Linked DNA regions of Homo sapiens: region 2 is linked to region 1. The links come from fine-mapping of genetic effects on gene expression. A gene starts in region 1. The other region holds a variant in brackets. All regions are shown on one strand. Distances are between the middles of the regions. Region 1 holds the start of SHE (Src homology 2 domain containing E). Region 2 has its middle 21 kb from the start of HAX1.

Region 1 (5,367 bases):
AGCATCCATCTTTCCAAAAATAGAAGGCACCTGAGGAGGTGGTGTGTGACAACATGGGTGACAACACCAGAGGGTAGGGGACCCTTCTCAGGAAGGAAGCTCCAGGCCTTGCTCCACAACCTCTGTTACATTCTCCAAAGAGTTTAGAAGTAACACTGGAGTTGGTGAGAATTCAGATACATGAGGAGAAGCGAAGAGGAGGAAACAGCCTGGAAATAGCCTCAGAAACCTCAGACACCCAGAAGTGACAACCATAAAAATAACCAGACAACCACTGCAAGGGACTGTGACTGCGACTGCCATTCACTTAATCCATTTTTCTTGACTACCCACCATGTGTACCGCATTTGCAAGATACAGTGAGCCCTTGGCTTCAAGGTGCTTGTGATCTAGTCACACAGTCAGGTGGACCACTGAATAACATATGAGCTGGGTCCCCGTCCATCTTTACACAGCTCTCCACTCAGTGCCTGGCTCAGGGTGGGCATGCTGTATTTACAGCATGAAAAAATGAATGGAAGAATGAACAGAAGTGCCCAATGCAGACATACACAGCATGTGTTATGGGCTCTTGACTTCAACCAGGGAGGTAGCATGTTTGAAGCCTGGGCAAGAGAAAATTAAAGCTCCCATGCATGTTAGGAAGTGATTGCCTGGACCGGAGTCTGAAATCTCGATTTGAGCTCTTCTCTCTCCCCCTTTCACATCGGAGAGAAGATAAAAACAACCAGATCGGACCAACTCATCTCAGCAAGAATGGAGGGAGTCCCTTCCTATGTTCACACTCCTTTTCTTAACTTTTCCACATTGGACAGCACCCAGAAAACCTCCAGTGTGTCCGTCGCAGGAAACACCCTCTCTTCTCATCTGTAATTTCCTTGAGAGCATTTCCTTGTCATATTCTGTATCCTCCACAGCCCTTAATGCCCTGTGCTCCTTTCCTCATATGGCTGCTGCGCAACAAATGCCCATGGAATGAATGAAAGGGCAGCAGTCTTGGAGATTTGCTGAACCTCCGAGGAGCCCTTTACTCGGTGGAACCGCAGAAAATGATGGAACTTCCAAATCAGTGGAGAAGACTGTTGGTTAAACCATTTCCTGAAGCTTTGAAATGCATATCTACACACTTGAGAGGTTACCATTCCTTATGCTCAAGAAGCATAAAAGTCATACACAAGCCTAGCTTTGCAATTCCCCTGAATATCAAAATTAAAATGAACCACATCTATAAAGGGGTCAAATGTAACCAAACAGGAATATCTCATTCAACGACTCTTCTAAACTGCTAACAAAATTCAATGGCTAGTACATTTCTGCAAAACTCCCCACCTCTAAAATAAGAGTTTTTCAAGAATTAAAAAACAGTCTAAGAATTTTAAATGGTCAGGAATTCCCAAATGGTGGAGGGAGAAAGGACCTTAGGAAACCTATCCTCACTGCCTCTTAGGTCTAAAGAAGCCTAGGGCTTAGCAGGCGCCCAGGGCTCCCCTTCGACTGAGAGGTGGTCCAAGGGAGGCTGTATTCTTACCGTCTCTTGCTGCTTAATAATCTTGCCCTTGTCCAGCTCGGGCCCCAGGGAGGAAGGGGAAGAGGACGCGGAGGAAGAGGAGCTGGAGCTGGAGCTACTGCTGCTGGGGTAGTTGCTCTTCCCGTTCTTCTCCTGAGTGTCCACCTTGATGAGCCTGTTGATGTAGGTGCTGCAGCCCGAGCTCTTGGTTGCACCCCGGTGGGGCTCCTCCTCCGTGGCCCGGGAGTTTTTGCGGCCCTTGCCCGCGGCGGCCTGAATCAGACCCTGCAGGCTGTCGCGGGACAGCCGGCTGTCCTTGGGGCCGACGCCGGCCCTGCCGCTCCCCAGCTCGGCCGCCGAGTTCTTGCGGCCCTTGCCAGGACCCGGCCCAGCGCCGCCCGCCTCCGAGTTCTTGCGCAATTTGCCGCCGCCGCCCCCGGGCTTGGCCCGCTCCGACACGGTCTTCAGGTTCAGGGGGAACTCCTTGAACCACTTGGCCGCCATGAGGGGGCCCCGGCCGGCTCGGCCCAGGAGCGTCGGGGCCGTGGAGCAGGCGAGCGAGGAAGCCCAGCCCAGACACGCAGAGGCGCCAGGGGTCGGGGACCACTGCATTCCCCGTGACTGGGGCGCTGGAGGCCGCGGCGAGGCCCCGCGACGGCTGCTCCGTGCGCCCCCGGCCGGCCGTCGCCCACGCCCGGCAGGGTGGGGTTCTCACGGCTCGGGGCGCCGAGCGGGCGGGCGCTAGCCTCTGCTCCGGACACGGCAGGCGACAGGCACGACGCGCGGGGGGCCCCGCCCGGGCTCGTCTTCAACGCCTGCCCGGCCCGAGGACACCGTGGCTCTCGGAGGCGGCGGGCGCCGGGGGCTTCCCCCTGCTCTTTCCTCCTGCGGTGGGAGAGGCCAGGCCCACGGAAGCCCCCTGCGGCCCAGCCCACGCTCCCAGGGACCAGAGAGGACCGAGCGGAGGCGGCGGGAGTATCCCCGGCGCAGCGACAGACGGTGGACGGACGGCGAGCGGCCCATCAACTCCGCGCGCCCCTCCCCTCCGCGGCTGGCGCCTCCCAGCCCCGCCACCTCCTGCCCAGAGCTGGGGGCGGCGGGGTGAGCGCCATGGCAGAGGCGGGTCGGGCTGCGAGCTCTGGAGAAAGGGGCGGCGGCCGCACGTGCGGATCGGCCGCGCCCCACTGAGCAGAGAGCCCCCTTCTGCCGCCGACAGCCCGCGTCTGCACCGAGCCGGTCTCGGCCGGGCGCTGCCTTCACACGCGCCCAGGAGTGTCACGTGCGCCGCTCACCCCCGGGAAGGAAGCCCCTCGCCCACCCACTCCGCTCTACTCCACTCTTTCTGCAGACGTTATTTTTGGCGGTAGGGCAGAGGTTGCGGCCCGAGGTCCGGGCGCAGGGACAACGGTCGCCAGCTCCTGCGCTAGTTCCGTTACTCTTCGGTGGCACACGGTCCTGGGCAGCGCGAGGCTCTTCCCGCCGTGGCCGCCGGGGATTGGCTGCCGGCAAGCCCCGCCCCGTGCCCCCGGGCTCAGAGGGGGCGGAGCGCGGAGGGAGAAGGCGCGAAGGCTGGGCGTCGCGATCGCAGGTGCACGCGCGTGGCCCGCGAGACGAGGTATGGCTTGTCGGCCCCAGGTCCCGGGATGCCAGGCGAGGGTTGGGAGGGAGGGGCGTCGGCAGGCAGCCATGGGAAACGCCCTCGTCCCGACTGATGGGGGAAAGGGGTCGCTGTTCCCGCGGGGCCGTCGCTCGCTCGCGCCGGTTGGGAGCGGCCCTCCTAGTCTGGATTTGTGCGGGCGGGGAGTGCCGTGTGCAGAACTGTGGCCACTTTAAGGGAAAAGACGCCTCTGCCATTCCTCCCTCCCTTCGAAGCCCTTTAAAAGCTTTCTGAGGCCGGGCGCGGTGGCTCACGACTGTAATCCCAGCACTTTGGGAGGCCGAGGCGGGCAGATCACCTGAGATCAAGAGTTCGAGACCAGCCTGGCCAACATGGTGAAACCTGGTCTCTACTAAAAATACAAAAATTAGCCGGGCGTGGTGGTGCGCGCCTATGGTTGCAGCTACTCAGGAGGCTGAGGCAGGAGAATCGCTTGAACCCGGGAGGCGCAGGTTGCAGTGAGCTGAGATCAAGTCACTGCACTCCAGCCTGGGCGACAGAGCGAGACTCCGTCTCAAAAAGACAAAAAACAAACAAACAAAAAAACACCTTTCTGGTTTAAAAAAAGAAATTTAAACTTAGTTTACTGAACGGAAATCTTTTGGTTTAGCAAACTAAATGTGCTGAAGGGGCTGACCAACACTGAGTCCTCATATACAATGGAAACAGAATGATGGCGACTGTGGACGGCCTCATTTGTGTGGGTGGTGGTTTGTGAGGTGGGAAAGCTAAAATGAAGAAATGCGTGCTCATACTGACGTTCTTGAAAATGCGTAGTGACATTTTTTTAAAGCTTTATTGAGATATAATTCACATACCATAAAATTCACCTGTTTTAAGTGTGCACCTCAAGTGTTTTCAGTATATTTGGTGTGTTTACAGTACAACCATCGCAACAATCTAATTTTAGAACATCTCCATCACCCCCAAAAGAAATCTCCCGTCAATTAGCAGTCACTCCTCATTTCCCTCTCCGCCTTCCCAGTCCTAGACAGCCACTAATCTACTTTCTGTCTATATAGATTTGTCTAGTCAGGACTTTTCAGAGAAGTGGAATCATGCAATATGTGGCCTTCTTTCCCTTAGCATCATTTTTCAGATTCATCCAGGTCGTATAGCATGTATTACTACTACATTCGTTTTATATTGCCAAATAATATTCTATTGTATTGCTATACAGCACTTTATTCATTCATCAGTTGATGGATATTTGGATTGTTTTCACTTTTTGGCTATTATAAGCAACACTGCTATGAATATTTGTGGAAAAGTCTTTGTGTGGACACATATTTGAATTTCTCTTGAATAGTTACCCAGGAGTGGACTTGCTGGGTCATATCGTAATTCCCTGTCTAACTTTTTGAGAGCCTGCCAAACTTTTCCAAAGTGGCTGCACCATTTTACATTCCTACCAGCAATATGAGGGCCCCTGTTTCTTCATGTCCTCAATACTTGTTAGAGATAGAGGATGTTGTCTGTATCTCTTGCTTTTAGCCACCCTGATTGATATGAAGTGTTATCTTTGTGGTTTTGATTTGCATTTTCCTAGTGGCCAAAGTTGCAGAGCATCTTTTCATGTGCTTATTGGCCATTTGTATATCTCCAGAGAAATGTCTAGCAGATCCTTTGCTCACTTTTTAATTGGTTTATTTGTTGTCTTTGTTGGTGAGTTGTAAGAGCTCCTTATGTATTCTTTAGGTCTTTTTAAAAACACAGATAAAGCCTGGCCAACATGGTGAAACCTCATCTCTACTAAAAACACAAAAATTAGCCATCGTGGTAGTGTGTGCCTGTAGTCCCAGCTATCTGGGAGGCTGAGGTGGGAGAATCGCTTGAATGTGGGAGGCAGAGGTTGCAGTGAGCCGAGATCGTACCATTGCACTCCAGCCTGGGCGACAGAGTGAGACCCTGTCTCAAAAACAAAAAACAACAACAACAAAAAACTACACAAATAGGTTACTTCTCCAGACCAAACAATAGATTGGAAGGAAACTCAGGACTTTGGAATCATGTGGTCATATGGTTTGGATTCACAACGAAAACAGGCTTCTCCCATTTGTGAGCATGGATGCTAAGTGATCTTGGCCAAATACTAGATTATCATCTCTGCATCTCCGGGACTTCATCTGTAAAACGGGTTAACAATGTCTCCCTCTTAGAGTTTGAGTGAGGATTAAATGAGAATGTGTGTTAGCTGCTTAGC
Region 2 (5,371 bases), 210 kb before region 1:
TAGCTGTACTAACTCAAAGTAGCACTCCTAGTTGTGTTCAGTGGTGGAAAAGCCAGAAATTTAGCTGGAAAATAGGAAACTACAAAAGGGCTGAGATAAGCTCTCCCACATCCCTGGCTCACTGGGAAACTATCATATGCATGGAGGATAGCTCAGAGAGCTCCCTGAAAAATAAAAGACAAGGAAGACTTGAACACTGCTGCACATTTTAATACACTTCTCATCCTTCAAACAGATATATTGGCAGAAGTGGATGCTATATGGGCTTGAGGTGTTGGAACACAATGCTTATTCTAATCATTGGCTGAACACTGTGCTATGTAAGCATAGGGGTGATACTGCTGCGGGATAATTAAGGAATCAGAGAGACCGAGGGATTGAGGAGGAGTTATTTAATTATTTAGGTTCACTGACCCAGTTGGATTAACATCCAAAGGACTGAGCCTGGAACAAAGAGTCAAGCTACCTTTTAAGCATTTCGTGGGGTGGGGGGAGATCTGTGCGGGGGGAAGCGTATTATAGAAGCGAGAGACAAAGACAGTTATTCAGTTAAGGCATGCATTACATTATTTCTTACTGTTCAAGGAACAACATGTTTTACGACTTGAGATTATCTGTCTAGTGACCTTGCAGCTGCACAGCTAGAGAAACAGAGTCTTCACAATGCCTGGTAAATGGAGAGATAAGGCTCACTAGCCACAGAGAGAAAAACAGGCAGTTAATTTTAAAGGACTCCAGCCCTTTCTGTTCCTCAAGGGGGAATTGGGTTTTCTTACATACAACTGAGTTTTTGCTTACACAGTCTTTAATTTTTTTTTTTTTTTTGAGACAGAGTCTCACTCTGTTGCCCAAGCTGGAGGGCAGTGGCGCCATCTTGGCTCACTGCAAGCCCCGCTTCCCAGGTTCACGCCATTCTCCTGCCTCAGCCTCCCGAGTAGCTGGGACTACAGGTGCCCGCCACCATGCCTGGCTAATTTTTTTGTATTTTTAGTAGAGATGGAGTTTCACCGTGTTAGCCAGGCTGGTCTCAAACTCCTGACCTTGTGATCCACCCACCTCAGCCTCCCAAAGTGCTGAGATTACAGGCATGAGCCACTGCGACCGGCCTACAGTCTTTAATTTCTTTTAATTCCTGTTCTAATCCTTGAGGGAACATTTTTTTTTTTTTGAGACGGAGTCTAACTCTGTCGCCCAGGCTGGAGTGCAATGGCTCGATCTTGGCTCACTGAAACCTCCACTTCCCAGGATCAAGCAATTCTCCTACCTCAGCTTCCCGAGTAGCTGAGAGTATAGCTGGGTGCCACCATGCCCGGCTAAATTTTGTATTTTTAGTAGAGATGGGGTATCGCCATGTTTGCCAGGATGGCCTCAAACTCCTGACCTCAGGTGATCCATCCACCTTAGCCTCCCAAAGTGCTGGGATTACAGACATGAGCCACTGCACCTGGCTGGAAAAATTTATTATTATTATTATTTGAGATAGGGGTCTCACTCTGTCACCCTGGCTGAAGTATAGTGGCATGATCTCGGTTCACTGCAACCTCTGCCTCCCAGTCGCAAGCAATCTTCCTACTTCAGCTCATGAGTAGCTGGGACCACAGGTACATGCCACCACTACCTGCTAAGTTTTTGTATTTTTAGTAGAGATGGGGTCTTGGTATGTTGCCCAGGCTGGTCTCAAACTCCTGAGCTCAAGCCGCTTTGGCCTCCCAAAAGTGCTGGGATTAAAGGTGAGCCACCATGCCTGACCCCTGTGGGAAAATTTTAAAAACAAGAATAAATGGCCGGGCATGGTGGCTCATGCCTGTAATCCCAGCACTTTCGGAGGCCGAGGTGGGAAGATCACCTGAGGTCAGGAGTTGAAGACCAGCCTGACCAACATGGAGAAACCCTGTCTCTACTAAAAATACAGAATTAGCCAGGCATAGTAGTGCATGCCTGTAATCCCAGCTACTCACTACTCAGGAGGCTGAGGCAGGAGAATCACTTGACCCCTGGAGGCAGAGGTTGCAGTGAGCCAAGATCATGCCATTGCACTCCAGCCTGGACAACAAAAGCAAAACTCCATCTCAAACAAAACAAAACAAAACAAAACAAAACAAAACAAAACAAACAAACAAACAAAAAAAACGAGAATAAAAACTGAGCAGACACATTAGCAGCTGCACACTGTGGAATGATAGACTCTACAGTTTAACTCCAGACAAATGACACACACACACACATCAGCATCACCAGCATCACCACCATTCAGAAAAATACAATAGAATCCAGACTCTA[C/T]GGTTTAACTCCAAATTACACACACACACACACACACACACACACACACCCCATCAGCATCACCAGCATCACCACCTTTCGGAAAAATACAACAGAATCCAGAGTTATTACAGTCTATTATCTAAAATGACCAGTTTTTTAGAGGAGGAAGAGGATAAAATGATCAGTTTTCAAGAAAAAAATTATGACACATGCGAAGAAACCTAAAAAACAGTAACTCATATCCTGATTTTAAAAGTCAATGAAAACTAGCCGGGTGCAGTGGCTCACGCCTGTAATCCCAGCACTTTGAGAGGCCGAGGCGGGTGGATCACCTGAGGTCAGGTGTTTGAGACCAGCCTGGCCAACATGATGAAACCCTGTCACTACTAAAAATACAAAAATTAGTCAGGCATGGTGGTGGGCGCCTATAATCCTAGCTACTGGGGAGGCTGAGGCAGGAGAATTGCTTGAACCTGGGAGGCGGAGGTTGCAGTGAGCTGAGATCATTCCACTGCACTCCAGCCTGGGTGACAGAGCAACACTCTGTCTCCAAAAAAAAAAACAATAAAAAACAAAATAAAAACTGAGTCCAGGCACAGTAGCTCACACCTGTAATCCCAGCACTTTGGGAGGCCGAGGCTGGCAGATCACGAGCTCAGGAGATCAAGACCATCCTGGCTAACAAAAAAATTAGCCGGGCATTGTGGCGGGCGCCTGTAGTCCCAGCTACTTGGGAGGCTGAGGCAGGAGAATGGTGTGAACCTGGGAAGCGGGGCTTGCAGTGAGCCGAGATGGCACCACTGCACTCCAGCCTGGGTGATAGAGTGAGACTCTGTCTCAAAAAAAAAAAAAATAAATAAAAATAAAAACTGACTCTGAGTAGGCCCAGAAGTTGAATTTGGCAGACAAAGACTTTAAAGCACATATTATAAATATGTTCAAGGAATTAAATAAAAATGTTTAACAATGACTCAATAAATATGGAATCTCAACAGAGAAATAGAAGCTATAAAAAAAGAATCAAACAGAAATTCTAGAATTATAAAGTAAAATAACTGAAATGAAAATTTTACTAAATGAACCCAATAGCAGATTTAAGATAGCAGAGGAAAAATTTAATAAACTTGAAGATAGATCAATAATAATAATCTAGTCTGAATGACAGAGACAAAAATGATTGCAGGAAAGTGAACAGCTGGGTACAGTGGCTCACACCTGTAATCCCAGCACTTTGAGAGGCTGAGGCAGATGGATTGCTTGAGCCCAGGAGTTTAAGACCAGCCTGGGCAACATGATGAAACCCTATCTCAACAAAACATACAAAAGTAAGCTGGATATGGTGGTGTGCCCCTATAGTCCCAACTACTTGGGAGGCTGAGGCAGAAGAATCGCTTGAGCCTGGGTGGTCAAGGCTGCAGTGACCATGTTCATGTCACTGCACTCCAGCCTGGGTGACAAAGCAAGACTGTCTCAAAAAAAGAAACAAAAAAACCAAAAAACAAAAACAAAAAAACACCGAAAACAAAAAGACTCAGAGGCCAGTGGTACATCAAGCATGCCGATATACATGTAATACATGTCCAAAGGAGAGGAGACAAAGGGTCAGAAAAAAGTAGTTGAAAAAATAATACAAAGGCCAGGTGTGTAGCTCACACCTGTAATCCCAGTACTTTGGGAGGCCGAGGCGGGCAGATCACAAGGTCAAGAGATTGAGACCATCCTGGCCAACATGGTGAAACCCCATCTCTACTAAAAATGCAAAAATTAGCCAGGTGTAGGGGTGTGTGCCTGTAGTCCCAGCTACTCAGGAGGCTGAGGCAGGAGAATCACTTGAACCTGGGAGGCAGAGATTGCAGTGAACCGAGATCTTGCCACTGAACTCCAGCCTAGCGACAGAGTGAGACTCCATCTCAAAAAACAACAAATAATAATAATAGCCAAAAACTTTTCAAATTTGATGAAAAACATTACACATCTGAGAATCTCAATAAACCTCAAATACATAGACACATCACGGTCAACTTGTTTAAAGACAATTGGCTACCACATGTACAAAAATTCGAACAATTCAGAGAAGATTAGCCAGTCTCCTGTACAAGAATGGCATGCAAATTTGTGAAGCATTCCATATTTTTACATGTAAATAAAAGAAAAAATAAAAGCAAATGTACTATATATAGAGAGTAATACTACTGTGTTAAATACACAGATGAATACAAAAAATCTGAGCATGGAAGAATGAATTTAAAAATAAGTGATTACAATAAAAAGACAAAAAAGATCTTTCAGACAGCAAGAAAAAAAGACTCATCAAATATGGGGGAAGAAGTACACAATTAACGGCAGACTTCTCTTCAGAAACAATGGAGACCAGGAGGCAATGGAATGAGATATTTTAAGAGCTGAAAGAAAATTACGGCCATGTGTGGTGGCTCATGCCTGTAATCTCGGCACTTTGGGAAGCCAAGGCAGGTGGACTACTTGAGCTCAGGAGTTTGAGACTAGCCTGAACAACATGGCAAGGCACCATCACTACATAAAAATTTTTAAAAATTAACTAGTTCCAGCCTGGCCAACATGGCAAAACCCTGACTGTAATAAAAATACAAAAAAAAATTAGCTGGGCGTGGTGGCTAACACCAGTAATCCCAGCACTTTGGGAGGCCGAGGCAAGTGGATCACTTGAAGTCAGGAGTTTGAGACCAGCCTGGCCAACATGGCAAAACCCCGTCTCTACTAAAACTACAAAAAAATTAGCTGGGTGTGGTGGCGGGCACCTGTAATGCCAGCTACTCGGGAGGCTGAGGCAGGAGAATCACTTGAAGCTGGGAGGCGGAGGTTGCAGTGAGCCAAGATCACACCACTGCACTCCAGCCTGGGCAACAGAGCAAGACTCCATGTCAAAATAAATAACAAGGCTGGGCACGGTGGCTCACGCCTGTAATCCCAGCACTTTGGGAGGCAGAGGCAGGCAGATCATGAGGTCAGGAGATCGAGACCATCCTGGCTAACATGGTGAAAACCTGTCTCTACTAAAAATACAAAAAATTAGCCAGGTGTGGTGGCAGGCACCTGTAGTCCCAGCTACTTAGGAGGCTGAGGCAGGAGA

Evidence for each region. PIP is the estimated chance that this variant, and not a neighbour inherited with it, causes the effect. A credible set is the group of variants that fine-mapping cannot tell apart.
Region 2: its variant is the best candidate, but not a certain one, in a credible set for the expression of SHE in nasal epithelium (TOPMed, PIP 0.69).

What each region holds. Positions count from the first base shown.
Region 1 is chr1:154,499,908-154,505,274 of GRCh38, forward strand. SHE (Src homology 2 domain containing E) reads right to left here and starts at 2,505. Exons shown (of 6, transcript NM_001010846.3): 1 at 1,529-2,505. The coding sequence starts at 2,119. It overlaps TDRD10 (tudor domain containing 10), which reads left to right and starts at 2,312. Exons shown (of 13, transcript NM_182499.4): 1 at 2,312-3,122.
Region 2 is chr1:154,291,205-154,296,575 of GRCh38, forward strand. It overlaps the pseudogene RNU6-239P. Among named protein-coding and RNA genes, the nearest start is that of HAX1, 21 kb to the left of the region's middle. The variant C/T (reference allele first, on the strand shown) is at 2,281.